Regions from separate parts of the Homo sapiens genome. Here region 2 is linked to region 1. The links come from fine-mapping of genetic effects on gene expression. Tissue or cell type: fibroblasts. Region 1 holds a variant in brackets; the other region holds the start of a gene. All regions are shown on one strand. Distances are from middle to middle.

Region 1 (16,959 bases):
GCATTTTGTTAAAAAGTGCTGATTTTCATAATGTTTATATTTCAGTTGATTTTTAGACTATGGGTACAGAATCAGTGACATAAATTAATAGCTATAAGTGTGACGTTTTTCATTTGGTGAAATGGAAATCATTGACAGTTTTTATTTTGAGGTTCTTATTATGTTGGCATTTTAATGACCTTGAGAGCAGTTTTATCCCTTTTACAAATAAAAGTGTTTTAAAATAATTGGCAGAGTAGATTTACTAAGTTAATCTTGATAAATGGGAAAATAATGCTTAACACTTTATGGTTGACTTTACGTTTATTACTTGAAATAAGGAATAATTCATAGCTAAATTTCTGTTCAAGTTCTTTTGATTCTGCCACCTTTGTAGCTAATGGGTATCTCTCTCTTTCTCCATAATCCCTTTCCATTTCTAAGGACAGAGTTTGGGTCTGTTTTCATGACACTATGGCCTTTCATAAGTTACCCTTCCAAACTCTATTTTCTCCTAATTTTTTTGTATTCCTACTTCACATCAGCCATATTGTCCCCTAAACTATTTTACCTAGGTTCTTCTTATCTTTCTCTCCATGCCTTTGTAAAGGAATATTTCTCTTTTTCTTACTCCGTTTACCCTATTCTGAGTAGTGTCACCTTTATATAATACCTCATTGCTTTAACCAGGCAGTTAATTCTTGTGGATGCCTCCATTCCTATTATATTTGCTCTTATTGTGCTTCTCGCATGCATGTAGTATAGGGAAAAGCACTGTCTGTTAGGAATCTTAATACCCTCTGTATGGACACAGTGCCTAGCCTATTAGTAGGTTTCTAGGAAAAATTGGTTAAATTTAAGTTGAACTCTGCTGCCAGCCTAATCTAAGCATTTAATAATTTCTATTTATTCTTTGTTCATTGTCACCAGTTAAAGAGATCAATAAATTTATGAGTGATTTTATTCATTAACTCAACTAGTATTTACTGAACACATTTTGCATAACCAGGCCATTGTTGAGTGTTGGCAATATAATGCAATTGATTCTTCAGAGGTACCTTGATGTTCTAATAAGAGAGATAGGGTACATGCTGTAAAATGAGGCAAGCATGTGCTCCACATGGGAGCCATACACTTGATTGCTGTGTTTGCTCTCTTGATTTGTCTGTCTACCATATATAAAGTGTCTGCTACATCAATGTCTGTGACTGGGTTCTGGCTACATAAGATGCCATGGACAGACCATTAGAGATAACACTGTCCTGCAGTTTTACCCATGAGGTAATCTTTAGGAATGAATTAGATGTTAATAATATACTGATATTTGTGTCTGTTGGGAAAAAAAGATAATGACGGTAAATGGCACTAGCAGCCATAGCAGTTCATTATGGCTTATCATTTGCTATTGCTGTAAGCCAAAGTAATATGTTAAACCACCTCATTTTAAATTATGTCTTAACTTCAAGCACAGTGGTTTCCCTGTTTGTTTTACAGAAACTAGAAAAACTGCTTTTGGAATTATCTCTACAGTGAAGAAACCTCGGCCATCAGAAGGAGATGAAGATTGTCTTCCAGCTTCCAAGAAAGCCAAGTGTGAGGGCTGAAAAGAATGCCCCAGTCTCTGTCAGCACTCCCTTCTTCCCTTTTATAGTTCATCAGCCACAACAAAAATAAAACCTTTGTGTGATTTACTGTTTTCATTTGGAGCTAGAAATCAATAGTCTATAAAAACAGTTTTACTTGCAATCCATTAAAACAACAAACGAAACCTAGTGAAGCATCTTTTTAAAAGGCTGCCAGCTTAATGAATTTAGATGTACTTTAAGAGAGAAAGACTGGTTATTTCTCCTTTGTGTAAGTGATAAACAACAGCAAATATACTTGAATAAAATGTTTCAGGTATTTTTGTTTCATTTTGTTTTTGAGATAGGGTCTTTGTTGCTCAGGCTGGAGTACAGTGGCATAATCACAGCTCACTGCAACCTCAATCCTGGGCTCAAGTGATCCTCCCGCTTCAGCCTCTCAAGCAGCGGGAACTACAGGTGTGCACTACCACACCTGGCTATTTTTTTTTTTTTTTTTTTTTTCCCTTGTAGAGACATGGTCTCACTATGTTGCTGAGGCTGGTCTCAAACTCCTAGGATCAAGCCATCCTCCCGCTTTGGCCTCCTAAAGTGCTGGGATTACATGAGCCACCACATGCAGCCAGATGTTTGAATATTTTAAGAGCTTCTTTCGAAAGTTTCTTGTTCATACTCAAATAGTAGTTATTTTGAAGATATTCAAACTTATATTGAAGAAGTGACTTTAGTTCCTCTTGTTTTAAGCTTCTTTCATGTATTCAAATCAGCATTTTTTTCTAAGAAATTGCTATAGAATTTGTGGAAGGAGAGAGGATACACATGTAAAATTACATCTGGTCTCTTCCTTCACTGCTTCATGCCTACGTAAGGTCTTTGAAATAGGATTCCTTACTTTTAGTTAGAAACCCCTAAAACGCTAATATTGATTTTCCTGATAGCTGTATTAAAAATAGCAAAGCATCGGACTGAACCAACTTTGGAAATAATTTATTTTTATAATGGGATCATGTTAAGTAGAAGTAGCTTTTTATGCAAATACATGCATTTATGCAATATTAATGTAAGGGCTCTAAAACAATGGAGTAGAGCCAGAGGTATAACTGAATAAGAAATTTTTTTAAGCAAGAGAAAGACAACTGTTCTGCGGGTTGGAGAAAATACAATTTTTTTTTTTTTTTTTGAGACAGTCTCGCTCTGTCCCCCAGGCTGGAGTGCAGTGGCTCGATCTCTGCTCACTGCAAGCTCCGCCTCCTGGGTTCATGCCATTCTCCTGCCTCAGCCTCCTGAGTAGCTGGGACTACAGGCGCTCGCCATGTATTTAGCAGAGACGGGGTTTCACCGTGTTAGCCAGGATGGTCTCAATCTCCTGACCTCATATTCCACCCGCCTCGGCCTCCCAAAGTGCTGGGATTACAGGCGTTAGCCACTGCGCCCGGCCCGAGAAAATACAGTTTTAAAAAGAGAAAGCTTTATAACCTCACCAATGAATACAAATGTTTAAATAAAATATTGATTAAAAAAACATTAAAAGTGCATCATGACCAGGTGAAATTTATTCTTTTTTTCTTCTTCTTTTTGAGACAGGGTCTCACTCTGTCACCCAGGCTGGAGTGCAGTGGCACAATCTCGGCTCACTGCAACCTTTGCCTCTTGGGCTCAAGCCATCCTCCCACCTCAGCCTCCCAAGTAAGTGGGACCAGAAGCATGCACCACCACATCCCAGCTAATTTTTGTATTTTTTTGTAGAGATGGGGTTTTGCCATGTCCAGGCTAGTCTCAAACTCCTGGCAGATTCAAGCAGTCTGTCCGCCTCAGCATCCCAAAGTGCTGGGATTACAGGCACAGGCATGAGCCACCATACCCGGCCTTCCAGTTCTTTTTAATGCAGTATCCTTTATCATATTCATAGGTCAAAAGAGAAAAATCAGAATATTTTTAATAGATGCCAGAAAGACATTTAATAAAGTTAAATCCACTCCTGATTTTTAAAATGACAACAATAAAAACCCATGGCAAAATTAAAGTAGAATAATATTGTATGCATACATATATATGTTCATATGTGTCTGTTTTTTGTGTATATTAAATGTGATGGCTCCAAAAGCATTTTTGACTACCGCTTGGCCAATTTGATGGATTAACCTACTCATTCCTTCTGTAAAACTGAGGCTGGTGCTGCTGAGGCCACACACCAAAAGTCTGCCACTTCCTTGTGTGCCAGTTTGCTTTTTTCCTTCACCCTGCTTAAGTTCACCAAAAGTCAGCTGTGTTTATTCACAAATCTGTTTAAGGCAGCTGTGTTTAGCATTGTATGTAAATTATTTTTTTAAATATGAAAATTGATGAGCTATTGGGGGCAAATGAAAAATTCCCGGGAAAACTAAGTCAACACTTTGGAAAGGTTTGGAAAAGAGTCATTACAAAGAACTGCTGTCAAATTAGATATGAGAAGGATAACAAATTTGGGGGTGATCAGTAAAAACTCTGCACTTGGATTGCTTCACTAATGTCAAGTTCCTTTTCTGCTTTAAAGGAACTAGAATTCAACAAAGACAACTTTTGATCTCTCATCAGAGAGATCATACTCCCAAGAACAGGCTTTGACCCTTCTTTAAAAGGTTGGTACCCAAGTATACATTTATCTATTTTAAGCTTAAAATGCTTAACAGGATGTATGTTCAATTTTTTGCGACGTCCCACCTTAATTTATGAATTAGTGATGTACCAGCTACAGTTGCACCAGATACAGTAAGATTTTCATGTTATAGAAAGGAGGTAAAATTATTTGCAGATACGACTGTCTTGGAAAACTCGTGAAATAAATGGGAAAAAAGTAGAAATACAGGTACCTTTCAGCTTACGTCCATTTACTACACATTTGTGTAGTATGTGTTTGCAGTTGTGCGTGCTTTCTATTCATACATGTTTATGCCATTGTTCATGATAGTAGGGCATGATGGCTGATCACCAGTGAATAGCAGAGGCAAGTTTCCTTCTAATATTTACTTTCGTTAGAATGAACCACTAATTTAATTGCTACAAGATGCCAATACCTCTGCCAAACCAAGATGAAGTTTGGCAGAGTGGCCAATTGTATAAATACACAAAAACCAGATTTTGATTAATAACCTGTTAAATAATTTTAAAAGATGACACTATTCACAAAGACATAAATTACCAAGAAATGTGTAGGGCCTCTATAAAGAAAACTTAATGAAAGTAATAAGAGAATAAAGGGAAAATAAAGACTAGAATACATGGAAAGAGACATTCTGTTTTCTTGAATAAGACAAATTGTAAATCAAATTCTCCCCCAAATTACGCATTTAACAAAATTTAAAATCAAAATGCTTATAAGTATTTTTTGTTTTCTTGTTTATGTATTTGGTCTTTGGACTTGGTATTCTGAAAGAGTAAATATGAGAATTGGAAATTTCAGGAAAAAACCTAATGGGAGGGACTTACAATGCTGAATATTACAGAGTATAACAAAACTCTAGTACTGTAATTAAAACTAATTGGTGCAGAAATTCAGAACAGTGAAAAGAGCAGGAAGTCCAAGATCATACTTTAGATATAAGAAGAAATGATGGATTGATTGTTCAGTAAGTGATACTGAAATAATTGGTTATCTATTTGGGAGAGGCAGTACAGCATACCAGTTAAGTGCATAGGGGAAAGAAAAACTAAATGCATTTAAAGCCCTACTTGCTAGTACTCATTAGCTATGACCTTGGGCAAATTATGTAACCTCTCTGTGCCTCGCTTCATCTGTTCTCCCTACCTGTCACATTATTGCAAGGATTAAGTAGGTTAGTATTTGTGGAAGGCTTACTTTGAACAGGGCCTGTCATATAAAATGTACCAACTACAGCCGGGTGCCATGGCTTACACTTGTAATCCCAGCCCTTCAGGAGGCCAAGGAGGGCGGATAACTTGAGGTCAGGAGTTCAAGACCAGCCTGGCCAACATGGCAAAACCCCGTCTCTACTAAAAATACAAAATCAGCCAGGCATGGTGGCCCATGACTGTAATCCCTGCTACTCGGGAGGCTGAGGCAGGAAAATTGCTTGAACCCGGGAGGTAGAGGTTGCACTGAGCTGAGATCGCACCACTGCATTCCAGTCTGGGCGACAGAATGAGACTCTGTCTAAAAAAAAGAAAGTACCAACTATTTTATTATTTATTACTTCATTATATTAATTTAAATATTGAAGTGTCAGCTATCATTTAGGAAAAAACTAAGTCAAATCTCTATCTCACACCCAATACACACCCATAGTAAATCCAGGTAGATTAAAGATTTAAATTTTTTAACAAACTTGTAAAATACTAGAGGAAAATGTAAGTTAATTAAAAAAATAATAATCTTGGATTGCAATAGACCTGCCGAGCATGGTCATCAAAGCCAGAAAACAAAGTTTGATTGATTTGTCTCTACATAACAACAAGTAGGAAAGTACATTTACAATACATATTCCAGGAAGGTTTCATATGCTTAGCTTTTAAGAATTTTTTTTTTTTAAATACCCAACATGACATGCTGTTAGCATCCATAGAGATCCCCATTCCCAGGGTGGTGTACCTATATTGCCAGTGCTTCAGATGTTGGGTACTAATGACTTATCTTCACCCTTTTCCAGAGGATTGTCCTGGGCTGATGAGAGTCACTTTACCTGAAGATACCTGGGAAGTTTTGTCTCCTCTGAGGTTGGCCCATGGCCAGTGACTGATGCAGGACATTACAGCCTGGCCCACTGGCCTCGGTGGTACAATTTATGCTCCTGAGCACCCCATGGGATTACGCTGTGTGTGGATTTCTCCTGAAACCACATATTTGCCTCTTCTGCCCTGTTCTGTTTTTTCTCATTCCCTTATAGAGGACTCTCAGTAAGTCACTTACACAAGAATCCTAATTTGAAATGCTGCTTCCAGGAGACCTGACTTAGAAAATTGGACAAATAAAGTTGATTTTTTTAAATGTCCAGTAACATGAAGATGCTGAACTTTCCTAGTCATTTAGGGGGAAATCACCACAAATATATCTGGCTGATCAGGTTGAAAGTTAAAAGAAAAAAAGATTTATAAAGTGGGTATTTTCAAGATGGTGTGGAGGGAGATACAATTTGATGCAAGTCTTATACTTTTGATGTCAATTTATTCTTCAGAAATAACTGGTTAATTATAAAGGGTGGATGGATAAGGATATTCACTGCAACAATGTCTTAAATGTGAAAATGGAAACAACCTAAATACCCAATAATAACAGGATTAAATAATTCATTGTACATTAAAAGAATACTGTCTATAAAGATGTCTAGAATAAGTTGTTCAGTTGAAGTTGTAAAGCTAAATACACAATACCCATAATGTGCACAGAAATAATCAGAATGTCATGAAACCAGGATTATTGGTGATGTGTTGCTTCCTTTGTTACTCATTTCTGTATTGGCATAATGAGTATTGGGTGTTCAAGAGGAGGGGGAAGGAAGTATGACAGATGTTATGGGGAAAAAGCAAAGTACAACAGGAAGACACCTTGGGGGAACTAATAGAATCTAAGGACTCAAGGATGGCTTCCTGGAGGAAATACAGCTAGAACAAAGGGGAGGAATGAGAAGTGATGTGATGGCGTGGAGTGGGCTGTAGTGGGAAGAAGAGTCTTCCAGGGAGCTGGCACAGTATGTGAAAACAGTAAAGCAAGTGCCTGGATTTTTTAAGGAACTGAAAATTTAGTTGAGTTGAAATTTAGAGTTTGGCTAGGAAGGTTATGAGAGATAAGAATAAAGAGTTAACAGCAGCCAGATTTTAAGGATTTTATAAGACATTTTTAGGAGTTTTTATTTCATCCTGAGAGAAATGTGAAGCCATCGAAGGGTTGAAAGAGGAGAGTGAGTTGATCAGCATTGCATTTTAGAAAAATCCCTCTATCTGCAACTTGAAAAACATTCTGGAGGTAAGCAAGCCTGGAGGCCAGGAGCCTAGGAGGGCTATTTGATCCAGATGAGAAGTAATGGTGACCTGAACTAGGGCAGAGGCACCTAGGATTGGAAAACATGGACAGATCACAGCACTACTTATGTAGTATACTTGGTAAGACCTGGTTGTTTAAAAGAGAAGGATGAGGGAAAGAAGGTCAAAAACAACTTCTAGGACTCTCCATTGGCCAGTGTGGTGTGCCCTTCACTGAAGAGCAAACACAAAATGAAAGATTGTGGGCAAAGAGTTGAGTCAGTGAGAAGGCAAGGAGAGAACCTTATAAAAAAA[T/A]TGACTATGTGATTAAAAACTTAAAAATTTCCCCCAACGTGTTTATCTTTTCCATTAGCAGAAATAACTAAGAGTTGTCTTAATTCTAATGGGATTTATTCCATATTGTCTCTCATGCCCTCTACCTAGTTATTAGTGCAAATATTTATATGTGGCAACATAAAACTTTTTAACTCTTTATTCTCTTCTCTCGTGTACCCTCCCAGCTCTTTAGGGGAGGTGGATTTGAGGCAGATACCATAAAGAAAAGTTGGTCACATGGTGGTAACACGTTGAAGTTATGCCACATGAGACATCAGCACTGGCAAGAGAAATGTCTGTGTTGTAGATGTTTCACTTGGAAGAAATTGAAGGACCCTGAGCCTTAAAAGTCTGACAAACTTAAGCCAGGACCCCTGTGGGGAAGGTAGAGGGGCCAACAAACAAGATTGGGAGTCAGAGAGATAACAATGAAATCCCCAATGCCTGTGGGAGGTGGACTCCCTGGATTAGTACTAGACAGAAAAGGTACAAAAATATTTCAAACCATTCTCACAACTCTATATGTGTCTATGACCAGATAACTGGAAGACCTTCTGGTTATGGACTATGCGTATACACTCTCCCAGATAGTTAGAGGCATATCTAAGAGGTTAACATATATGATCTTATCCAAAATGGGTCTCTTGGTGCTAGTGTTTTACATCAGACTTCACTGGCTTTCATGTATTTCCACAAGTGCCAAACATTTCTCATATCCTTGCTGTATTCCATAGAGCAGTGTTCCTGCTACCTGGAACACTTGATTCTTGAATAACTCCTGTTTACCTTTCAGACAAACCCTAAAGGTTACCACCTCAAAGAAGTCTTTATAGAAGCCTCATCATCTTAGACACTCTGTATTGTTTCCTTCATCGTATTTACAACAGACAGATACTGTGCACTTACTGCCTCACTTAACGACAGGGATACGTTCTGAAAGGTGCATCATTAGGCGGTTTTGTTGTGTGAACATCACAGAGTGTTACTTACACAAACCTAAATGATACAGCCTACTAAACACCTAGGCTATATGAGCAATACAGCCTATTGCTCTTAGGCTTCAAACTTGTACGACATGTCACTGTACTGAATACTGTAGGCAACTATAACACAGTGGTAAGTATATTGTGTATCTAAACAAACATAGAAAAGGTAATGCACTGTACTATGATGTTACAACAGCTAGGATGTTGCTATCAATAGAAATTTTTCAGCTTCATTTTATTTTTATGGGACCACCTTTGTATATGTGGTTCATTGTTGGCCGAAACACCATTCTGTGGCACATGACTATGTATTTATTCCTCATTATTCCTTTAATATTCATCTCTTCCAGGAGGGCATGTCATGGACAATCTCTTTTTCTTACCACAGGTCTTAGGACCTGGCCTAGCACCTGGCCAAGAACTACTGGCATACCTCCTTTTATTGTGCTTCAATTTATTGTGCTTTGCAAATACTGAATTTTTTACAAGTTGAAGATTTGTGGCACCTCTGTAACCAGCAAGTCTATTGGTGCCATTTTTTCAACATCATGTGCCTGTTTCCTGTCTCGCTCATGTCACATTTTGGTAATTTTCACAATATTAAAAACTTTTTCATTATTATTATATGTGTTTTGTTGGTTAGTGTTCTTTGATTTTACTATTATAACTGTTTTAGGTAGCCACAAATTGCACTCATATCGGACAGTGAACTTAATCCATGAATGTTGTGTGTGTTCTGACTCCTCCATCGACCAGCTTTCCCCATTTCCTTCCCTCTCTTCAGGCCTCCCCATTCCTTGAAACAAAACAATATTGAAATTAGGCCAATTAATAACCCTACAATGGCCTCTAAGTGTTCAAGTGAAAGGAAGAACCACACATCTCTCTCAATCAAAAGCTAGGAATGATTAAGCTTATTGAGAAAGGCATGTAGAAAGCCAAGATAGGCTGAAAACTATGCCTCTCACTCAAGTTGTGAATGCAAAGGAAAAGTTCTTGAAGGAAATTAAAGGTGCTTCTCCAGTGAACACACAAATGATAAAGCAAAACAGCTCTATTGCTGAATGGAGAAAGTTTTTGTGGTCTGGATAGAACACCAAACCAGTTACAATAATGCCTTAATCCAAAGCCTAATCCAGAGGCCCTAACTCTTCAATGCTATGAATGCTGAGAAGTGAGGAAGCTGCTGAAAACAGTTGGAGAACTGCAGCGGAAGTTGGTTCATAAGATTTGAGGAAAGAAGCCATCTCTGTAACATAAAAGTGCAAGGTGAAGCACAAGTGCTGATAGAAGAAAGAAGCTGCAGCGAGTTATCCAGAAGATCTAGCTAAGATAACTGATTAACATGGCTACACTGAGCAACAGATTTTCAATGTAGATGAAACAGCCTTCTATTGGAAGATGCCATGTAGGACTTTGATAGCTAGAGAGGAGAAGTCAATGCCTGGCTTCAAAGCTTCAAAGCTTTGACTCCCTTGTTAGCTGGTGATTTTAAGTTGAAACCAATGCTCATTGACCATTCTGAAAATCCTAGGGTTGTTAAGAATTATGCTAAATCTACTTTGCCTGTGCTCTATAAATTGTACCACAAATCCTTGATGATAGCACATCTTTTTACATCATAGTTTATTGAATATTTTAAGCCCATCATTGAAACCTACTGTTCAGGAAAAAAAAATATTCCTTTCACAACATTACTGCTAATTGAAAATGCACCTGGTCACCCAAGACTGATGGAGACGTGCATCTGATGAGGATGTACAAGGAGATGAATGTTATTCTCATACCTGCTTACACAACATCCATTCTGTAGCCCATGGATCAAGGAGTCATTTTGAATCAAGTCTTATTAAGAAACACATTTCATAAGGCTATATGCCGTAGATAACGATTCCTTTGATGGATCTGGGCAAAATAAATTCAAAACCTTCTGGAAAGGATTCACCATGCTAGATGCCATTAAGAACATTCGTGGGTCATTGGAGGAGGTAAAAATATCATTAACTGGAATTTGAAAGAAGTTAATTCCAACCTGTGTGAATGACTTGGAGGGGTTCAAGACTTCGGTGGAGTAAGTAACTGTTGATGTGGTGGAAATAGCAAGAAAACTAAAAGTGGAGCCTGAACATGTGACTGAATTGTTGCAATCTTGTCATAAAACTTGAACAGCTGAGAAGTTGCTTCCTATGGATGAGCAAAGGAAGTGGTTTCTTGAGATGGAATCTACTCCTAGTGAAGATGCTGTAAACATTGTTGAAATGACAAAAAAAGGATTTTGAATATTACATCAACTTAGTTAATAAAGCAGTAACAGGGTTTGCGAGGATGTACTCCAATTTTGAAAGATGTTCTATTGATAGTAACATGCTATCAAATAGCATCAGATGCTACAGATAAATCTTTTATGAAAGAGTTAATTGATGTGGTAAGCTTATTGTTGTCTTCTTTCAATAAATTGACACAGCCATCCCAATCTTCATCAACTACCACCCTCATCAGTCAGCAGCCATCCACATGGAGGGAAGACCCTCCGCCATTAAAACGATTATGACTCACTGAAGGCTCAGATGATCATTAGCATTTTTTTTAGCAATAAAGTATTTTTAAGTTAAGGTAGGTACAGTGTTTTTTAGACATCGTGCTATAGCACAATTATTAAACCACAGGATAATGTAAACATAACTTTTGTATGCACTAGAAAACCAAAAAAAATTGTGACTCACTTTATTGTGATATTAGTTTTATTATGGTGGTCTGGAGGTCAAAAATCATGGACCTGTGTGTTCTCTCCTGGGAAGTCTTTGACATTGCCAGTCCCTGTCCACAAGAATTGTTAAATCTCCAGTTAATTTGCATTTTTCTAATGATCAGTGATATTGAGCTTTCTTTTCCAGATGTTTGTTGGCCACATGAATATCTTCTTTTGAGAAGTGTCTGTTCGTGTGCTTTGCCCACTTTTTTGATGGGGTTGTTTTTTCTTGTAAATTTAAGTTCCTTGTAGATTCTGGATGTTAGAGCTTTGTCAGATGGATGGAGTCTGAATGGCAGTTACTTAAAAAGTCAAGAAATAACAGATGCTGGCAAGGTTGCAGAAAAATAGGAACACTTTTACACTGTTGGTGGGAATGTAAATTAGTTCATCCATTGTGGAAAATGGTGTGGTGATTCCTCAAAGATCTAGAACCAGAAATACCATTTGACCTAGCAATCCCATTATTGGGTATGTACCCAAAGGAATATAAATCATTCTACTACAAAGATACATGCATGCATATGTTCATTGCAGCACTATTCACAATTGCAAAGACATGGAACCAACCCAAATGCCCATCAATAATAGACTGGATAAAGAAAATATGGTAGATATACACCATGGAATACAACGCAGCCATAAAAAGAATGAGATCATGTCCTTGGCAGGGGCATGGATGCAGCTAGAGGCCATTATTCTCAGCAAATTAACACAGGAGCGGAAAACCAAACACCGCATGTTCTCACTTATAGGTGGGAGCTGAACAATGAGAACACATGGACACAGGGAGGGGAACAAAATACACTGGGACCTGTATAGGGGGTGGGGTGGGAGGAAGGAGAGCATTACGAAAAATAGCTAATGCATGCTGGGCTTAATACCTAAGTGATGGGTTGATAGGTGCAGCAAACCACCATGGCACACGTTTATGTAACACCGCTGCACATCCTGCACATGTACCCCAGAACTTAAAATTTAAATTTAAAAAAGTCACTAGTTAAGCCTTAATGGGAACTTCGTAAGAAATGCGGGTTTACCATGCAGAAATCATTCTGACCACCAGGGGTCTCTTTCTACACACCACTGGGACTGAAAGCTCGCTAGAATTCCTTTGTGTCTTTATGGCTCTCGGCCTAGCTGCTCAGTGTGGTGGTGGCATTTCGTGGCCTGTCACCTGGGAGCTTGTCAGAAAAGCAGAATCTCAGGCCCCACCTGAGACCAGCTGAATCAGAAATCTGCATTTTAACCAGATCCCCAGGTGATCTGTATACATATTAAATACTGGGAGTGCTGTTGTACGGGACATTTCTAATCTGCAAAACTTGGAAAACAATGGAAAAAAAAAACCCTCCTATATAGCTTTTTTTTTCACATAGGACATTTCCACCACACTTATAGAAGGACTTAGAGGTTTAGAGTTTGATTGCCTTTATTATGAATATAAAATGTACATACAATACAATATACATTTATACATTTACAGTTTGCATTTCCTTTCATCTTTTTTGAGCAAATTCAATTCTGCATGTCCCAGTTTGCCGCTCCTTCCACTGATTTGCACTTACACTCATGACGTTCTCTTCACTTGGGTACTCTGTGTACTCGGTAAAAAAAAAAAAAAAAAAAAAAAAAAAAAATCCAGCCTGGGGGTAAAATAGCTGGCTTCACTGTCCTTTTCACAGAATCACTTTCCTTCCATTGTTTCCTTTCCTGTCCCTACATGCCTTCCCTTGCTTCATTCAAACTTCTGCATTAAAAATTCAGGAGAAAAGAGGGCTGTGATAATCAGCCCTCTCTTAAAAACTCTTACATGAGCGAATGACACATAAGTAGGCACTTGAACTTTGCTCTTTCACCTGGTTTAAGAACTACCTATGGGTGGGAAGGCTCTGAAAGTGTTATATACAAATGAAGCTCTGCTCACCAGATGGATGATCATGAAGGTCTGAATATCAGTAGCGTGGCAGTAAATAAATAAACAGGAATACATAAAAATAAATAAGAGTTTCACTAAAGGAAATTTAAACACCTATAACCCTGTGCTTTCTCAAAACTTCATTAGGTACATCTTCACAACACGTTGATAAATAGAAACTAGATTTTATGGCTAGTGTCTCTTCTCTTGGGCCATGCCTTCAAAATGCCAGTGAACATTTACTGATTAAGAGTCTGTCGTTTGCCTCAGAATGTAGCTATGCGAGAGGTCTTGTAGGAGTTCTCTCTGAGGCTGTCGAATATTGCTTTGGTTCCATTCTGCCAGTGTAGCACCAGATCCATCGGCGTCTTCCCAGCCTAATCAAATGAGATAAGGAAAGTTGACTTTCAGGTGGGTGACATCTGTAAATTCACATTCTCTGTGTGTGTTTCATGAGGTAAGGATTAGGTATATGTTATAACAGTGTTTTATGGTTTCCACCAGGAGTGATCTGCAGTTTATACTCAAACCAGTCCTTCACTGTTTCTCAGAGGGATGCTTTTGCCATTTTAGAGCAAAAATCTTTTTCACGTGGGACCATCCCAGGTATTGGTAAAATCCCTTGTCCCTAGACACTATGTGTCAAGAGCACCTCAAGTCATTTTGAAATTTATAAAATGTCTCCATACATCTTCCAGTATCCTGTGGAATGGACTCCCGGAGGTGGGAGCATGCCTCTTGGACCAAGAATCAGTGCCTATCCATTTGAATGATAGTTCTTTGATTGATAAGAAATGATGGTAAATGAGCTGCATCAATAACTTGGCTTAAGGACTTAGGTACTGCTTGGGTACTATTACTGTTCCTGGGAGCAGATTTTTCATAACTTGTCAGAATTTTCAATGGACTCTCCCAGGAAATGTATTTTTCTTGGAGTTGATGGCAATGACACATGTGAACAAATAATTTTTGAGACGAAATTTTGATTTCCCTTATGCACGTGTCTCAAGATTTAAAAATATTAAAACCATGTCATCTCTCAATTCTCATCTATAGATCTGAGAAGTCCAAAATTTTTCCATCTCTATTCATTGAGAAGTTTCTTTTTAACCCAGCGACTGCAAATTGGCAGCTTTGAGATGCAAACCAGAATAGAGACCTGTTTTGTTTTGACCCAAACAGAACTTAGATTTTTTTTAAGATTAGTATGAATTGGCAACAGTTGGAAACCAAGAGCTGGATTTGTGACTTCTATGAAAAAATCAGAAGAGTTAAAAACATGGTACCCATGGTTCCACAGAGCAACATAGACTGGGTTGGGGAAGGGCCACCTTTAAAAGAGTTATGTGCACAGACCCTGACAGCCACACATTGAAGTCACTTAGGCCATCTGCCCGGCACAGTGAGGTCAGTCTGCAGTCAGATTATGAGATCTGTAGGTATTTAAATTAGTGGCCCTATAACCTTCATTTTGGAACTTCCCCACCTCTGTAGTGTCTTTCTCTAGGAACAATCATCAGTAGACATGAATATACAGTTTTGGATAATGAGAAAATATTGTATGCTGCTCCCAATCTCCTTAAGATGGCATCAATAGGTTATTGATCTTTGGGGGAAACATCAATCCATTGGGTCAATGACATTAATAGTTCCATAAACCTGATGCTAATATCTAACTGATAATTCAGAACCCTAAGCCGTATTTGTATATTTTGGGCTACTCTTCCATAAATTCCTTGCACTTCTCTCCATTGAAATTTATATTGTGATTTTTCTGGCTACTTACACAGTCTCCCTAAACCTGTATGCTATTTGTCTCTGCTGGTAGTGTCTCACTGCCTGAAAAAAAATCTTCACATTTTCTGCAGCTTTCAAGATTTCATTTAACCTGCTCTTTTTCTGATAGTTTAAAAAAATATTAGATAGGATCAATTCCAATATCTAGACTGAGGAAGCCCTACTGTTAACACTTTCCCATCCCAAGCAATCTTCATTTATCACCATTCTTTGATCCTGTCACCAAGCCAGATTTGTTTTAAAAGATAAGATATTCCTCTCAGTCTTTGCAACACAAATAAGGGGAGAAAATTATTTGCATTTATATGATGACTGAGTTTCCCTCCCCCCCCCCCCACTCTTTTTTGTAAAGTGATTCTTCAAAAGCTTCTTTAAAATTATTTCTTCAGAAATTTATACCTGTTCCTCTGGGCAATATTTTTTAAGCTTATATTAGATGGTGTTTGTCTGGAAATTGAGACCATGAGGAAAAGTTGGTTATGTTCCCTGCTTACAGATGAAGTTAAATTAATATGTACTTATACAAGAATTTTCAGGGCCTAAATATAGGAAATTATTTTGAGAGATGTGAAGACAAATCCAAGTGGAGAATGGATAGAAATTATCTGAAAAAAAATACAGGCAAAAGCACAGCTACCCCTGGAAGAAAATGGTGACATTTCACATTGCTGTAAGGAGGAAAGGGACTTTCTGAATTACTCAGATTGGATATTGATTAACCTTAGTTCACTGGCTGCACTGACCCTTGTGGAATTTTAGGACATTTTGGAAATGGTGGATGCCTTTATTTCTAACTTCCTCAGCCCTTGCACAGACAGAAATGGCCAAAGCAGATTGGACTTCTAGGTGTTTGTGGGGATGAGCAAATTTTGACTATCTTTCATTTCCAAGACCAAATTGTAAAAGAATTACTATGCACTGTATCAGGCACTGAGGTCATAGCAGTATCTATGACTTCCCTCATCTCTGGCCATGTGAACTGGGTCCTAGCCAAGATAAACACTGTCCTTGGGGAAATGGGCAGGGGCATTTAGACCATCGAAGACCCCTCAAATACTGCCATTGTGGGAGTCGTTTCACCTATTTAAGAAATGCTCCTGGAAATTGGAAAGCTTGCAAGCGGTGTTTCTTGTTTCCAGTACTTACACAGTTCTTGATGTTGAGATCCGCGCCATACATAATCAGGAGTCGGATCATCTTATAGCGGTTCAGTCTCACCGCATCATGCAACGGGGTATCTCCTTCCTAGAGAAGCAGAGTCAACAGGTTCAAGGTGGGTCTGAGGCCAGGAAGTGGGTCCTGCAAGGGCACCCAGGCTTGGGGGAGTGATTCCAAATACAAAAGCAATGAAGCTTTGGGAAACCCGAGCGTGTCCAGCTACTCACTCTGTCTTTGGCGTTGAGGTCTGCCTCACAGGCGATAAGATGCTCCGCGCACTCATAGTGGCCAGTCCTCACCGCCACATGCAGCGCTGTGCTGAGCAACTGGAAAATTGGAAAACGCTGCTGATTCGCTAGGAATGAGGACAGAGGCTGTCCCAGACCCCAAGACATGTGCGAGGGGGAGAAGTGGTCACTAGGGTGCCTGCACACAGCATGGGCCTCCAGATGACTTTAATGGAGAGGCGAGGTTAGGAGATGGAGGGGTGGGGGAGGAGGG
Region 2 (16,959 bases), 49 kb before region 1:
CATCATCTACAGCATCTACAATTTTTCATGCAATATGATGAATATACAATCAACATTTGCTAGGCATGCCAAGACACAGACCAAAAACCCAGAGAAAAAAACAGATCACACAAAGAAACCACAAGTGACTCAGATATTGGAGTCAGGAAACGAAGAGTCAAACTATGATTAATACACTAAAAAATATAACAAGATGAAGAAATTAGATGAAAAGGTAGAGAATTTCACCAAAAAAATCAGAATCAGTTTAAAAAGCTTAAATGGAATTTCTAGAATTGTAAAATACTATTATGGAAATTAACTCAATAGATAAGGTTGAACAACAGATTAGACATAGTAGAAGAGACAATTAACAAATTGGAAGGCTGGTCAAAATTTTTTCAAAACTCAAGCACAGATGTAAAACATAAAATGGAAAATATAGAAAAGAGTAAGAAATATGTGTGACAGAGTAAAAAGGTCTACAATACATATGTTTGAAGACATAGAGAAGTAAAGAATGGAACAGTAGTAGTGTTTGACGAGATAACAGCAAACTGATTAAAGATATCAATACACAAATTTTAAAAATCATTAGGAACCCCAAACAGGGTTAACAGTAAATAAACGACAATAACAACAAAAAAATCAATAAAGCCAGACCTAGAGACATCACAGAAAAACTGATAAAAATTAAAGGCAAAGACAAAACCCTAAAAGTCAGGGTAAAAAAGACACATTACCTTCCATGGAGTGATAATAATGTTGGCTAATGGCTGATTTTTCAACAGAAATGATGGCAGTCAGAAGACAATGGAACAATGTTTTAAAGTTCTGGGGAAAAAAACTAGAAATATAAAATTCCATACTCAGTGAAAATATCATTCAAAAATGAAGCTGAGGCTGGGTGCGTTGGCTCACACCTGCAATCCCAGCACTTTGGGAGGCCAAGGCGGGCGGATCATGAGGTCAGGAGATCAAGACCATCCTGGCTAACAAGGTGAAACCCCGTCTCTACTAAAAATACAAAAATTAGCAGGGCGTGGTGGCAGACGCCTGTACTCCCAGCTACTCTGGAGGCTAAGGCAGGAGAATGGTGTGAGTCCAGGAGGCGGAGCTTGCAGTGAGCTGAGATCACACCACTGCACTCCAGCCTGGGCGACAGAGTGAGACTCCGTCCCAAAAAAAAAAAAAAAAAAAAAAAGAAGGAAGCTGAAACAAAGACATTTTCAGACAAGTAAGAATTGAGAGGATTTGTCACTAGCAAACCCTCAGTAATATGGTTTGGCTGTGTCCCCAACCAAATCTCACCTTGAATTGTAATAATCCCCACATGTCAAGGGCAGAGCCAGGTGGAGATAACTGAATCATGGGGGTGGTTTCCCCCATACCGTTCTCCTGGTAGTGAATAAGTCTCACAAGATCTGATGGTTTTATAAATGGGAGTTCCCGTGCACAAGCTCTCTCTTGCCTGCTGCCATGAAAGACATGTCTTGCTTCCCCTTCACCTTCCACCATGATTGTGAGGCCTCTCCAGCCTTGTGGAACTGTGAGTCAATTAAACCTCTTTCCTTTATAAATTACCCAGTCTTGGGTACGTCTTTATTAGCAGCATGAGAACAGACTAATACATTCAGTAAAAAAATAATGCTGGGCCGGGCATGATGGCTTATATCTGTAATCTCAGCACTTTGGGAGGCCAGGGTGGGAGAATTACTTGAGGCCGGGAGTTCAAGACCAGCCTGGGCAACATAGCGAGACTGTCTCTTTATGTGAAGTAAAAAAAAAAAAGTTTTTAATTTAAAAAAATAATAATGCTAATAGGCATCTAACTGGGCAGAAGAAAATGATCTCAGATGAAAATGTAGTAATGCAGAACAAAACAAAGAACAATGGAAAAGATAAACATGTAAGCAAAGAAGAATGAATACGGACTGTTACAACAATAAAAATAATATCTAATGGGTTTTAATAATCTGTAGACCTAAAATGAATGACAATAATAACATAAAAGGTGTGAGGGGATAGATAAAATTAAAATGTTCCAAAGTACCTTATTACCTAGGATTGTATTTCCCCAAAATAAATTTAAACATATCCACAAATGACTTGCACATAAATAAATGTTCAGAGCAGCACTATTAGAGATAGCCAGAAACTAGAAAAAAACTCAAATGTCCATCTACGGTGAATGGATAAGCAAATTATGGTATATTTATACAACGGAATACTACTTATCAATAAAAATGAATGAACCACTGATAGGCTAAAAACTACAGATGACTCTCACAGACATTATGTTGAGAAATAGAAGCCAGATTCAAAAGAGTACATACTATACAATTCCATTTATATGAAGTTCTAGCCAAGCAAAACCCCAATGCATGATGCTAATGTCAGGACAATGGTTCCCTTTGCAAGCAATAGAAACTAGAAAAGGAGAGGAGGGGACCTCTGGGAGGTTGCCAGTGTTCTATTTCTTAATATAGTTGTTTACATGGATGTGGAAATTCATCAAGCTTCATCCTTAGAATTGTGCACATACATATACTTTTCTATATGAATTTCAAAAAGTTTTAACAAATATTTCAGTCATACAAAAAGTTATACAAAGGATAATAAGTCTATATCCACCACCGAGATTAAGAAACAAAACATTACCAATATAGGTGATATATATACTACTGATTACACCACCACCCACCCCACCAGAGATAAATCACTGTCCTGAATTTGGCGTCAACCACTCCCTTGCACTATTTTATACTTTTACTCTTTCTACAAGCTTCCCTAAATGATATGTAAAACTATTTTTCATGTTTTAAAACTATGCATAAAAAGTAATTTGATTTCTTTTTTTTTTCTTTTTTTTTTTTTTTTAAGACAGTGCCTCACTCTATTGCCCAGGCTAGAGTGCAGTGGTGTAATCTTGGCTCGCTGCAGCCTCAACCTCCTGGGCCAAAGTGATCCTCCCACCTCAGCTTCCCAAGTAATTGAGAACACAGGCATTTGCCACCATGCCTGGCTTTTTTGTTTCTTTTCTTTTCTTTTTTTTTTTTCCGTAGAGATGGGAGTCTCCCTGTGTTGCCCAGGCTGGTCTTGAACTCCAGGGCTCCAGCAATCCTCCAGCCTCAGCCTCCCAAAGTGCTGGGATTACAGTTGTGAGTCACCACATCTGGCTGGTAATTTGATTTCTATTTTTAAAAGATCATTCTTAAATTAGCACAAGGGAACTTTCTTGGATGACAAGATATTCTATATCTTGATTAGAACATTAGTCACATAGGTATATATATTTGTCAACATACAAATTGAATATTTAAGATCTGTGCATGCCATTATATGTAAATTATCTCACTTTAAAAAGTTTCTAAATAGACCATTCTTGCTTCTTCTTAGGGAATAGCTCGGGGCTGGACAGAAGTGGAACCAGGAAAGCCAATTAGAATATTGCAGTAAACCTGATGAGCATCAAAGTCATCTATCTAAAGCGCAAGGAAGAAAAGACAACTTATGGATACAATTCTTTGAGCAGCTTAACTGTGAAGCAGAGCCGTGGCTGGAGGAAGAAGTGAGGCCAGAGGCCAAAGAAGGGTTTTAAAAGATAGAAAACCAAACTTGACACAGTAGAAAGGAAAAGCTGAAGAAAGACCATCAATAAGCTGGGCCTGGTGGCTCACGCCTGTAATCCCAGCATTTTGGGAGGCCGAGGTGGGCGGATCAGTTGATGTCATGAGTTTGCCAACATGGCAAAACCCCGTGTCTACTAAAATTCAAAAATTAGCCGGGTGTGGTGGCGTGCACCTGTAATCCTAGGTATTTGCAGGGGCTCAGGCACGAGAATCACCTGAACCCAGGAGGCGGAGGGTGCAGTGAGCAGAGATGGCACCACTGCACTCCAGCCTGGGTAACAGAGTGAGATTCTGTCCCCCTCCACCTCACTCCCCCCAAAAAAACAACAAAACAATAACAACAAAAAAGACCATCCATGAAGAAACAATAAAGGAACAAAGACCTTGAGAAGGTGGGGAGATGGAATATAAAGTCCAAGTAGTTTGGTATTTGCTGGCTCACAATGTCTTTTTGCTTTTTAACTGGAAAGAAGTAAAAAGAAGGGTACACATGCAGGACAGATCAGATTGTTTGGTGGGGGAAAGATAAAAGTTCTCATCTGATGGCTGCTACTTTTTCAATGAATACAAATCATTTTCTGAAAAAGACGGGATGGGAGCTCTGAAGCCTGTGAAAAACAGTATGGCATTACATTAGAAAAGCATCCCGGTGTGATGGGGAGTGGTTAAGAAAAATGAAAGGTTCCATTTTAGACAGGCTAAATGCCCAACAGATATCCAAACTCTCCAAATACACAAAAGCCTGTAATGAGCACAAAAGCAACAATATTGTAATTAATCTTTGATTATGCTGCACAAAGCACAGTGTAACCTATATTAGGTACTCAAGAGGGAATGAACAAGGGAATGAAGATTTTTTTTTTACATATTTTCACAGCACATTTAATATCATCTGTCATATTCTACAACGGAATTGCAGAAAACATGCTTTTCAGAAATAATATATTTTCCTTTTTTCTCATTTTTAGTTCTCAGTGTTCTTGGAAGAAAATCAGTCTGTGTCTTCCAATTTTATCAATTCTTCATTTTCTCTAAAGAAATGATATGCTGATCTTCTAAAATAATTTTTAAGCAGAATTCACCAATGGGGCAATTCTCATAGGTAAAAGGAGAATCTATATGCCTATGTTACCACAATTTGTGACAATCATAAGAATACAGTTAACAACAAAATCTTAAGCTCTTGCCAAGAAGGATTAATGTCTTCTCAGTATTCAGGACATGCCTGCCGATGCTAAGTCACACATGCACGCTGAGTGGAGAATGCCTTTAGCTCATGTATAGGAATCACAAGGTGATCTCAGCCAAACCTCAATGTAGCCCAGAAGAGGAGAAACACTGGCTGTCTTAGGAGACAAATTAGCACAAGGTATTATTTATGTATCATTTATCAACTGTGAAATTTTAAAAAATGGTTATAAATACAGTACTTGCAGCATAAACCGTTATTTGTTTTATTACACTAAGTTCCATTTAAAAGGACTCCATTCATGCAGGATGCTCTGTTTTGGTTGGCTGAGCAGTCAGATTTCTGTGCTTATAATTCATGTATACACTTACTATGTGTATTGAGTGCACTCTCCTAATTCCAGTTGCCACAGTCAGACTGTAAATACATATGTTTTGTCATTCTTAACTACTGTAATTCAGAACTTCAGCTGCCAAATTTGGTGCTAATATTCTCACATATGCAGTTCATGCTCTGCTCTTAAGTAATTCCTTGTTTGCTGTCAGCAGCTTCTACCATGATATATAAAATGGTAGAATCAATTTAAAGAAAAATAACCTAAATTGTTAGCTAAATGGAGCTACAATGTGTTTTTCTTCTTGAAAATATTCCCTTTTCTATTATTTCCTTTATTTAGTAATTATAAACCCTGGTCAAGCAAAAAATACATACAGCAGAACATTTTAAGTACCAGCAAACCACAAACAGCAGTGTTTTCAAGAAGAAAAAAAGGAAAATCTCAGTTTCATGCTAGACCATCCTTTGAGGCACTGTCATTTTAAGTGTGGAGGCATCAATTATTTCCCCTAGGCTGAAAGATCTACACATATAAAGGTTCTATAGATCCACTAAGAAAATAAGCAACCATTTCTCTGTATCATTAAACACAACAGGATACTAGTCTTGAAACACCGGCAAAATTCTGAGTGTGAATATTAAGGTCTCATATTTCAGTTTCAAGTGAAATAGAGTTGTTTTAGGCCAAAGAGGATTGAGACCATACTTCAAGTTGTCAACTGCATAATATTTCAAGGGTCAAAGACTAGCTCCATTTCAAAAGCCTGTAACCTTACAGCCTGAAGAAACCCTGTGGGTCTCCTAGTTCAATATGACACCCAAGGCAGGAATTTTTCCCCTAGCATCCCTGACAGATGGTCAGCCTCTGTTTCAATTACTCCAGTGGGGGAGTTCTCAAGAGAAGGTTCCCAAGGGCTATGATGAAAGGCTAGAACCAGCCATTCAGACCTGGAGGAAGGCTCCAGTCAGCAAGCTCGCAAGATACAGACAGCATTACCAAACATTGAAACCAGACTTCCACAAGCAAGAATGCGATTCCGAACTGACCATCATAAAGATGCAATGTGTAAGACATACAAACCCCAATTCTAGAACCATCCAAGGTCCTTTTACTGGCCTAGGGAGTAGCTCCCACAATGGGGTAAGCAAGGTGGCTTTTCTCCGACTTATTATTATTATTTTTTAATGACTCTTTAAGGCTCACAGCAAGGCTTGATCAAGTCAGGGAGCACCAAATCCCTTCCTTCCAAAAACCAAGGCAAGGGACCCGCTGGTGGAAATGCTAAGGCTTAAAATACTCTTAACTTTGGTCTTAAATTCGTCACTACAGTAAACCAGAACATTTCCGGTTTTTCTTTTAAAGATGTACATAGGCTATGCCGTAACCGAAGTTTGGTTGGTGTAGGGTGGATTGGGGGGAGCGGTGTTTTAAGCGCAGCCCTTCATCCCGCCTTGAAGTCTAGCTTGATCCTCCCAGGAAAGGCGAGCGCGCGGGGCTGAGCTGCCAGCCGGTCCCCAGCCGGAGCCTGGGACGGGGCGGTCCGGCCCTTACCTGTCAATGCTGATCACGCACAGGGTCATGATCGAGGCCGTGCAGCACATGACGTCCATGGCGATGAAGACATTACAGAAAAAGTGTCCAAAGATCCACTTGCCCCCGATGAGGTCGGTGACGCTGACGAAGGGCATGACCGCCACAGCCACCGAGAGGTCGGCCAGCGCCAGGGACACGATCAGGTAGTTGGAGGGCTGGCGGAGCTTCTTGACGAAGCACACGGAGATCACCACCAGGCAGTTGCCCGCGATCGTCAGCAGCGTGATGAGCGTCAGGATGGAGCCGATCACAACTTTCTCGACTCTGCCGTAGTTGATCTGTTCCCCACAGCCGGAGGCATTGTCCGGGGGCGCGTCCCAGGTGGGCGCCGGGCTGGCTGTCACCTCGCTCAGCAGGTGCGGCGCCCAGGAGCCCGCGACCGGGTCGGCGCCACCGTCGGGGCTCAAGTCGGGCAGCCCGCGCCCCACTTCTGGCAGAAGGAAAGAGCGGAGGTGCCCGTAGAGGTCCGGGCGGCCGCTGCTGTTAACGTCCATCATCGCGCCGCCGTGTGCCGCTGCCCATGGAGCCGGCGCCCCGGCCACGCGCCTCCGGCTGCCGGCCCCGGGGCTTCACCTCACCGGTTCCGCTCCGCCCGGCCCAGCCATGGGGCCCGCGCCGACCGCTGGGGGGCGCCTGGCTCTGTCTCGGAGCCCCGCACTCCCCGGACCCCCGGCCGCTGCGGGTAACGCGGCAGCGCGGCCTCACGGGGACTCCCTGCGGGAGGCGCTTCGGCCCCCGACGGACGCCTGGGACGCGCGGAGTCGAGGGAGCTCGGGCTGGGCTCCGCTGGCAGCTCCACAGTTCGCAGCAGCAGCTCGGCTGCGCCGAGAGCGCCCGGGCGGCAGCGGCAGAAGTTGCGGAGTGCGCCCCGCCCCTCGCGCCCGCCGCCGCCGCCGCCGCCGCCGCCGCTCCCCTGCGGCAGCCGCGCCGCGTCCCCGCCGCCGCCGCCTCCGGCCGCTGCCCGCTCCCTCGCGCTCCTGGGACGGGATACCCGGGCTGGGCAGGCACCGCCGCCTCTCCCGCGCCTCCCTACTGTGAGGGGGCGGCGCTGCACGCGCCTCCCGGGATCCCGGGTCCCCTCGCCCGGGAAGCTGTCCTTGCCGCATGATAGATACTTAGAACCCCTCCAGCCGACCCCAGCCTCCGCACACTAGTCAGCCACAGTTCAGTGGGGGCATTTTTCTTTTGTTAAGAGGCCTAATGAGCCAGCGGATGTTTGGGCTCATTGCGAAATGAAGAACCTAGAGGGGGATTTTATTTTTCTTAATTAAACAACAACCAAAAAAACGTCTCTGAGCACTACACTAAGCAACAAATAGGTACTTCCGTTTTCTATTTTGACCGCTTATGGGAAGAAGCGAAGATGGAAAAGAAGCAGCCGAATGGGGTGAGGGTGGGAGCTCCGAGAAGAGGAAGAAAGAAAAAAAGGAGGGAGGGGGATTCCTTAAGCCCCTGGCACCCAGGAGATGAGGATGCTCTGGGGACAAGGCCTCCAAGGGGGTTACACCCATTTGGACTAATCCTTCCTGGATGTCTAGAAACAGTCCTCTCCGCTCTGAAAATAGACCCTGATTGCCTTTATATTTAGACTTCAAAGCCTAATATATTGAAAAGAGAGTTAATTTTCCCGTAGCATTCTGGAAGTCTTACACATAAGCAAAGAAATGACCGGTTATACTCTTCTATAAAGGAATCCTGGAGGTGTATGTTGATTTAATACCTATTGGCTAAAATTCCCCTTGGTATCCAAACCCTGTCAGAGCGGCTGATTTTTATTATTTGTGAGACTTGCTTCATTCCATTTTGTTTGAAGGTTTCATTGGAAGCCAGCAGTGATTTCTGTAGTTTAAGACTCTAAAAATAATCAAATCTGTTTTTTCTTGTTAGGCCCTAGCGGATTATAAATAAGAAGAAAAGGAATAAAAACCTCAAAGTATATTGATCAGAGTGCTGAATAGTACTTTCATTCTTCAAGGTGGGTATTAGCTCTGTTTTTCCAGATAGGGAAGGTTGTTAGCTCTTGCAATCAGCTGGTAAGGAATAGTTATGTTTCAAACCCAAGTTTATCTGATTACTATGCCCATATTCTTCCCTGTACACATTCAGAAAAAGTTTTAATGGAAAAAAAAAAAAGCCCTAATGTTCACAGCTCTTTTGCTGTGATCAACATTTCAGAGGCTCCTCTCTGCCTAGGATAAGCAAACCAATCCATTGAGTCAGAGGAAGAGTTGAATATAATACCTAGGCCACAAAGCAATATTATCTAACAGTTAAGATGGATGAGGAAATTTCTTCAACCTTACTTATGTTAGTTATTCTCTGTTTCGCTTTTCTTGGTTTGTTATCTGTGGTGAACCACGGTCCGAAAATATTAAATGGAAATTTTCAGAAATAAACAATGTGTAAGTTGTCAATTGCACACTATTCTGAGTAGCGTGATGAAATCTCTATCTTACCCAGGATATGAATCATCCCTTGTCCAACATATCCACACTGTATATGCCATCCACCATTAGTCACTTAGTAGCCCTCTCTCTTACCAGATCAAAAAAAAAAACATAGTATATATACGATTGGGTACTATCCGGGGTTTTAGGCATCCACTGGGGATCTTGGGAGAGAGGAAATCTCAGACAAAAGACAAATAGTTTGTTGCTGGAATGCATCTAAGAAACCATTTGTTCACCCTTCAGTGCAGAGGAGGAAATAGAGGCTGGGAGAAATTTTATAACTTATCCAAGATCATATGTGACTGCATTGAAATGTCTCCATTTTTTTATTTTGAGGTTTGGAATTGTCTTAAGGTCTTTTAAAAATTCCTTCATGTAGTATATTCCCCAAGATACTTTTGATATTTTTTTCATTTTAACTTTTCAACTCATTTTAACTTATTTTGACTTTTGTATTCTTCCCCTTGAATACCCTAATCAGTTCAGCTTATATATTCTGTCTTGGCTCTGTCAAATAATATTCCAGAGTAATTACACACAGATTTTGAAAATTAATCATTTTATTTGTATTTAAACCTCTAGTCAATATGATTTACCACCTACACTCTTACAGCCCTCACGTAGCCCATTTATATTTCACAACAGCTTCTAGTTTTTGCTTTTGTCTTGTTTTAGTCCCTTTGGGATGCCATAACAAAAATATCATAGCCTGGGTGGCTTAACAACAAACATTTACCAAGAACAAGGCAACAGTAAATTTAGCCATGTTGCTGTGTCCTCACCTGGCAAAGGGGGTAGGAGAGCTCTCTGGGTCTCTCTTTCTTTTTTTTTTTTTTTTTTTTTTTTTTTGAGACAGGGTCTTGCTCTGTCACCCAGGCTGGAGTGCAGTGGCGCGATCTCGGCTCACTGCAACCTCAACCTCCCAGGTTCAAGCGATTCTTCTGCCTCAGCTTCCCAAGTAGCTGGGATTACAGGCACATGCCACCACACCTGCCTAATTTTTGTATTGTTTTTAGTAGGGACCGGGTTTCACCATGTTGGCCAGGCTGGCCTCAAACTCTTAACCTCAAGTGATCCGCCTGCCTCAGCCTCCCAAAGTGCTGAGATTACAGGCATGAGCCACCAAGCCTGGCCTGGGGTCCCTTTTATGAGGGTACTAATCCCATTCAGGAGGGTTCTGCCCTCATGACTTAATCATCTCCCTCTCCCATCTGACAAAGTCCTAATGTTCAGAATCTATAACTTAAATGAAGGAACAAGCAAGAAACAAATAACCCCATTAAAAAGTGGGCAAAGGACATGAACAGACACTTCTCGACAGAAGACATACAGGTGGCCAGCAAACATGAAAAAATGCTCATCATCCCTAACCATCAGAGAAAATGCAAATCAAAACCACAATGAGATACTCTCTCACACCTAATGCCACCACAATGGGGAGCAGGATTTCAACATACCAATTTTTTGGAGGAAACAAATGTTTATTCCATAACAACTTTTAAATTGTGTGACATATAAATACAGCAAATAATCATTAAAATACTATTTTTTAAATTACTACCTCCTTCATTGTCAATATAGCATCAAGTCCAAGCTCCCTTTTTTATAGAACAGTCACCTCTGTTATATTATCCCTAGTGATGGCTGAGTGTATTTCCTAAGAGTTGCTAGGTTTCTAATTTATAAGCTGTCACAATGCATAAACATAGTTATTGAAAATCTCGGCTTCTGCAGCATTACTTTGCTTATGTTGAGTTTAAATTTCATCTATCATTGTGTTATTCCAAAATCCTGACAGAGCAATCTGGAATTCTTTCAGTTTCCCTTTAACCTTCACTAACAAATAATTGTGTCCTCATAAAAATGCCAAAATCTAGTGTATACTTTTCTGTAATTTTCTCACAAAGAAATGCCAAAGATATAGCTTCACAAAATATTCATAAAATATCTAAATATTCATCTAAATTTGTTGTTTGTTCTGCCCTTAGTTTTCTGGTGTTTAAAAGCCATATCAAGGTGTTGCTTCCTTCTTCCCTCCCGCTGCCCACCCACTCTTCAACAGTTATACCAGAGACAGTAAGTAAAGTGTTGGCATCTAAATCAAATCATGTCTTTATTTTCTGTCCCTTTTATTCCTAGCATTTAAAAAAATTACTGCTTTTAAAAGTACTAATTCTTATCTAGACTCTCATTGCCTACAATAGCATTCTCATAAGATTGTCAGTGAGGGCACCTGAGAATACAGCTTTCTGAGGTTTCCAACTGGCAATCTGGCAATCTCCTGCTCTAAGAACTGCTCTCGGAGAGTGCAGAAGAGCTGTGGAGTCCTACATCATAGTTACTGTCTTTTTATCAGCCCTTCTTCCCTCTAGGTACTCATCTAGCTCATCTAAATGCATATGCGTAATCCCATCTATGAAAACCCACACATATCCCTCCACAGGACATAAGCTTAGGATAGTTTGTTTTCCCATAAACCTTCATACCCTGACAACCTAGATGTACTTTAAGAAGCACAAAAAAAGCTTCCTAAGCCATAGGGTTCATTGGCAACTCACTAGTCAGTCAAGCATGCTGATATCATGTCTATCGGGGGTCTGATGGCCTCCCATGCCCAGTGCAGCGGACTTCCACAGGGCCACTCTTTCATTTCTCCAAATTTTTCAGTCTCTCACATTTGTACCCCATTTCCTCACTCAACTAGACTAATTATCTGGGTGTCCCTTGCCCCCAGAATTGGGTGAGAAAAGACTAGGGAAACTAGAATGCTTAGACAGTGTAGTACTAAGAGTATTGTAAGTAAATATCCAGATACTACCCTGTGGCCTTTATTGGGGCTACAGATCACTAATACAGAGAACACACATGCTAGAGACAGGGACTCAAATCCATCAACACAGACATTTTTGAGGCCCAGTTAGGATAAAAGCAGTTAGTCTGGGACACCTGAATGTCTCCTTCTCAGTGACAGCACCCCTCGCCATAGTTAATTTCATTCTTTGTAGGCTTTTAAAGCACTTTTAAATTATATTTATTATAGTACTTACTGTTGCATTATGCTTCATATTTCCATGACTGTCTTCCCCATTAGACTGTGAACTTATCAAAGGGAGGGATATTTCCTTACTCCTGCCATATACTAGGTGTTCAATAAACATTAGTCAGTTGAACTGAGTGTAGAATAATGCCTATAACCAAGAATCATTCATGTTGTAAAGTAATTCTTCAGCCTAAAAGTGAATTGTGTTTTGTTTTAATTTAGACATACTAAAAATAAAAACATTTTTTCTTTGATTCTTTCCATTTAGAAAATTTTCATTCTCTTTACAAAATAAAGGTAACCTTTAAAAAGTTTCCTCCAAACAAGATAAATGAAAAATCAGACAACAGCTACATCCAAGAGCCCTTATTTATTTTATTAATCACTCAATTTTTCTTAACCAGGACTGTTTTCGAAATGTATGTGGTGCATGCATACCCCCTAGTGGGGAATCTATTCAGCAGCACAAATTCCACAGAGACAACTTTCATGGAAAGTTTTTATCAATGAACACATTTGACATTGTCAGCTCCCAATCCTTCCTGAAAGATTTCTAATGAGAAGAAAATTTAAATTCCTCAATTAAAAAATAGATTAAAGTAGCAATCATTCATTGAGTCAACATTAATTAATGAGTGTCTAATGCAAACCAGATATTGTTTTAGGAGCTCTGTTTTAAAAGGACACATTAAGTTTAAGATACTATTGGATTATTCAAGTGGAGATGTCAGCTATGCAGATACAATTTCAGGGGAAAATCTCCCAAGAGGAAAAGTAGTTACAGAAGAGTCCTGAGGATTTAACCGTGGGATGCACCAACATCCTGAGATCTTGGAGAGGAAAAGAAACCAACAAAGACTGAGAATGAGGGGGCAGTCAGGCAGGAGAAGAACCAAGAGAAATTGGATATTTAAAGTCAAGGAAAGAAAATGTTTCAAGGGGGTAGAAATTGACTGAGTTAAGTGCAAAGTAAGGCAAGAACTGTTTCAGTGCAATGGTAGGGGTAAAACAGATTGGAATGGATTCGAGAGATCAAAAGACAGAACATGGCAATTCAGAAGGTGGACAACTTTTGGAGTAGTTTTACTCAAAAGGGCAATCAGTAATTGGGGCAAAATCTAGAGAGATTTGTGGTATTTCAAGATAATCAAAATAGAAGTAAGGCTTTCATTGAAGAAGTGATAGGACACATCTTATTCTACAGTTTCTTTAGAATTTTATGAATCCTTCTATATTCAACAAAATGATATCTTAAAGTAAAATTACCATCACAGTCATATCCCATTTCTAGGAAAAACTATGCCTAATCCATTATTTTATTTGATTTGTTGCGACTTTTTTTCTCGAGATGGAGTCTCGCTCTATTGCCCAGGCTGGAGTGCAGTGGTGCGATCTTGGCTCATTGAAACTCTTCCTCCCGGGCTCAAGCACCTCTCCCTGCCTCAGCCTCCCAAGATGCTGGGATTACAGGCTCCTGCCACCACACCTGGCTAATTTTTGTATTTTTAAGTAGAGATGGGGTTTTGCCATGTTGGCCAGGCTGGTCTTGAACCACTGACCTCAGGTGATCCACCTGCCTTGACCTCCCAAAGTGTTGGGATTACAAGTGTGAGCCACTGCACCCAGCCTGATCCATTCTTTTAGTCATTCAATAAGCATGCCCTAGCTACATATTAATAGGCACTGTGCTAAGTGCTGGGGTCAATAAATAAGGCAGGTTCTCTGCTCTGCAGATGTTCATTGGTAGAAGAGACAGACGAGTAAATAATTACAGTACAATGTGAAAGTCTCCTAATATAGGTATGAACCAAAGGTATGAGAGCCCAGAGGAAAGAGGTATTAGCCCTGCTTGGAAAGACCAAAAAATTCACAGAGCTAACATATCAGCTCGAGTAGAAAGTTCATTAGAAGACTGAGGAAAGGAGAATGCAACGCTGACAGGGTCCATAAACACATGGAAGACTTGCCATAGCTGTGGAAAATGGCAAGGGTAGACCTTTGGGGAAGATCACAAAGAAACCTGTGTGCCATGCAAGGTAGGTATGAGTTTTACTCTGCGCAAGAAGGGTCACATTATTTTTCTAAAATAAGTTGTTGACTGACACTAATTGTTCAATAACACATTTAAATGTTTTTTCAAATACTTAAAAATCTAAAAATGATTCTTAGCTTGCGAGGCATACAAAAACAGGTGGCAAACCGGATTTCACCCATGGACCATAGTTTACTAATCTCCAATTTAGACTAATTACTGGCAAGATATTTGTAAAATTCTAGTGTTCCAATATTATCATTTTAAGTTCTCAATACAATGCACTGCTGTTCAAAAACTTCCTTTTGTAATTTTTATTCGCACTAGCAGTAGCAATTGAAAAAGGCAAATTAAGCAATATTATCATCAAGTCTAAAGGTTTAAATCAGAGTGTCTTTTTTGGATCATAGTCTTCGACTTCACAATTTGGTGCTGCAATAAAGGGTTAGTCCATAATTTTCATATCTGAAAACCAGTTTCAGTGCAAAAAATGGGCTAGATCATTCCTACCCAGATGAGTTTCCCAAAGATGTAATTTTGTTATATATGAATAAATCTGCTTATATGATTTTTTTAAGGGGCAGGGGTTATATCATCAACCACAAGAACCAAATCTTTGATTCAGCCATCACTGGTGAGCCAAGATGGATATTTTAACCTTGATGACATTAATAAGTAAATTTCTTTCAGCCGCTCAAAATTGAGTTCTCAACATCCACTGTAGCTATTTGGAGCATGAACTGTGTGGGCCATGGTTAGTGCCTTAGCTATTATTGGTATGGCTTTTAAATTTAGAGCTCAAAGTGGTTTCTTGTTAATGGTACAATAAATTGGCTTAAATTCTGTGTCTTGACAAAATCTTGTTACATCGTGCTTATATTTCATAAGTCTGATGGTAACACTGACCCCTACTGGAGTCCCATCCGTAGCCATGGTTACCAATTCTGAAAAGTGTACTTTAAAATTCTAAAAAAAACAAAAAACAAAAAAAAAAAAACCTCTTCTCCATACACAAAAATAAGCTACTTCCTAATGTGCCTTTTTGAAGCGCCATTTCCAAAAAAAATTTTTAGTCATTTCAAAATACTCTCCAACACAAATAGCTTTTAGGTTTCTATACACTTATCAGCTGCAACGAAAAAATGCCAGAAATAACTTAGGTTTTTTCATATAACTTGTCTTGCAAGCTCTAAGCCATATTTACAACATACTGAGCAGTAAAAGCTACAGATATTACATTTGTAAATGTTAGTTTCTGTTTAGGACTTGTGCTTTCTTTTGCCTCCAATAAACTTTCTTTTTAAACTTGCCTTTGATACAAAGTTTTTGTTGCCTGAGCAATTTTTTTTTCACTTAATATGTAAGCATTTCTAGACAGCATCACTGTGAAAGTTAATTTTATGTTTCAACTTGACTGGGCCATGGGGTGCACAGATATTTGGTCAAACATTATTCTGGGTGTGTCTGTGAGCATGTTTCTGGAGGAGATTGACATTTGAATAGGTAGACTGAGAAAAGCAGATTGCCCTCCCTAATGTGGGTGGGCCTCATCCAATCAGTTGAAGGCCTGAACAGAAAGCTGACTATCCCCTGAGAAAGGGAAGATTCCTTTGCCTGACTGCCTTTGATCTGGAACATCAGCTTTTCCCTGCCTTTGGACTCAAATTGAAATGTCAGCTCTTTCTTGAGCCAGCCTACCTGGAACTACACCATCAGCAATTCTGGTTCTCGGGCCTTTAGACTCAGACCGGAATGACACCATCAGCTGCCCTGGATCTCCAGCTTGCTGACTGCAGATCTTAGGACTTGTCAGCCTCCATAATCACTTGAGCTAATTCCTTAAAATAAATCTCTCTCTCGCTGTCACTCTACACACACACACACAAACACGTTGATTCTTTTTCTCTGGAGAATCCTAATACCATCATTTATTCTATTTGTTTTTCAAAAATCCTGTTGAAATTTCAGTCCTCTTCTTTACATTTAAGTCTATCATCATGCATCTTTTCCCTATACCAGTCATAATTCTTCCTTTGATTTCTTTCATAATGGCTCCTTAAATTGTATTTTTTTTAAAAAATCAGGCACACTTTACATCTTAAAGAGGTAGGACTACTCTTTATTTTCACAATCAAGCATGTTCTTATGCAAATTTTTGTAAATACAAGCCTACATCTGTCTCATTTTCCAATTTTTAATAGAAACATGAGTGTAAAAAAATTTCACTTTCATTTACCTGCACTTCAAAAGAAAACTAATATTGCAAGCAGGGGCAGATTACCCCAGCACAGAAAGTGGACAAATTTTTATGATATCAGGTCAGTAACAAGAGTTTCTGGGGGAAGGTAAGAAGATGAGGAAGGAATCACTGTGAGCTGTGAGCAGCTCCCTGGATTGGTGATGTCCTATGGAGTGCCACTAGAGTTCTAGGTTTAGCAATTAACCCCTCTGGTCTGCTTTATGAGGGCTTCTGGGAAAGGCTGGGCAGATGGTTCACTGCACAAACTTCCAGATATGTGATGAATAGGGCAACTGTAATATCAGCCTGGAGTTAAGGCATCTTCTTTTAGTCTCCCCAAGAGCTCCTATAAGTGTCCCACCATGTGGGACACAGAGGATGGTTCTGTTTCAGTTGCTGGTGTATCACACTAGTGCACCATGTGCACAGTTCAGTGAATTTCTGGCCAGGTGATTAAATAATACATCC

Which allele goes with the higher level. Positions count from the first base shown, and alleles are read on the strand shown. Sizes are in standard deviations (SD) of each study's normalised expression.
For the expression in fibroblasts of the gene that starts at base 7,595 in region 2, T is the low allele of the variant in region 1 and A is the other (small effect, 0.21 SD a copy in GTEx).

The links.
Region 2: it holds the start of HTR7, and the variant in region 1 is fine-mapped to the expression of HTR7 in fibroblasts (GTEx, PIP above 0.99).

What each region holds. Positions count from the first base shown.
Region 1 is chr10:90,899,097-90,916,055 of GRCh38, forward strand. It overlaps RPP30 (ribonuclease P/MRP subunit p30), which reads left to right. Exons shown (of 11, transcript NM_006413.5): 11 at 1,474-3,095. The coding sequence ends at 1,583. ANKRD1 (ankyrin repeat domain 1) reads right to left here. Exons shown (of 9, transcript NM_014391.3): 7 at 16,686-16,784; 8 at 16,447-16,545; 9 at 13,000-13,880. The coding sequence ends at 13,770. Among named protein-coding and RNA genes, the nearest start is that of ANKRD1, 14 kb to the right of the region's middle. The variant T/A (reference allele first, on the strand shown) is at 7,830.
Region 2 is chr10:90,850,445-90,867,403 of GRCh38, forward strand. It overlaps HTR7 (5-hydroxytryptamine receptor 7), which reads right to left and starts at 7,595. Exons shown (of 4, transcript NM_019859.4): 1 at 6,689-7,595. The coding sequence starts at 7,227. RefSeq lists silencers at 7,193-7,242, 7,263-7,632.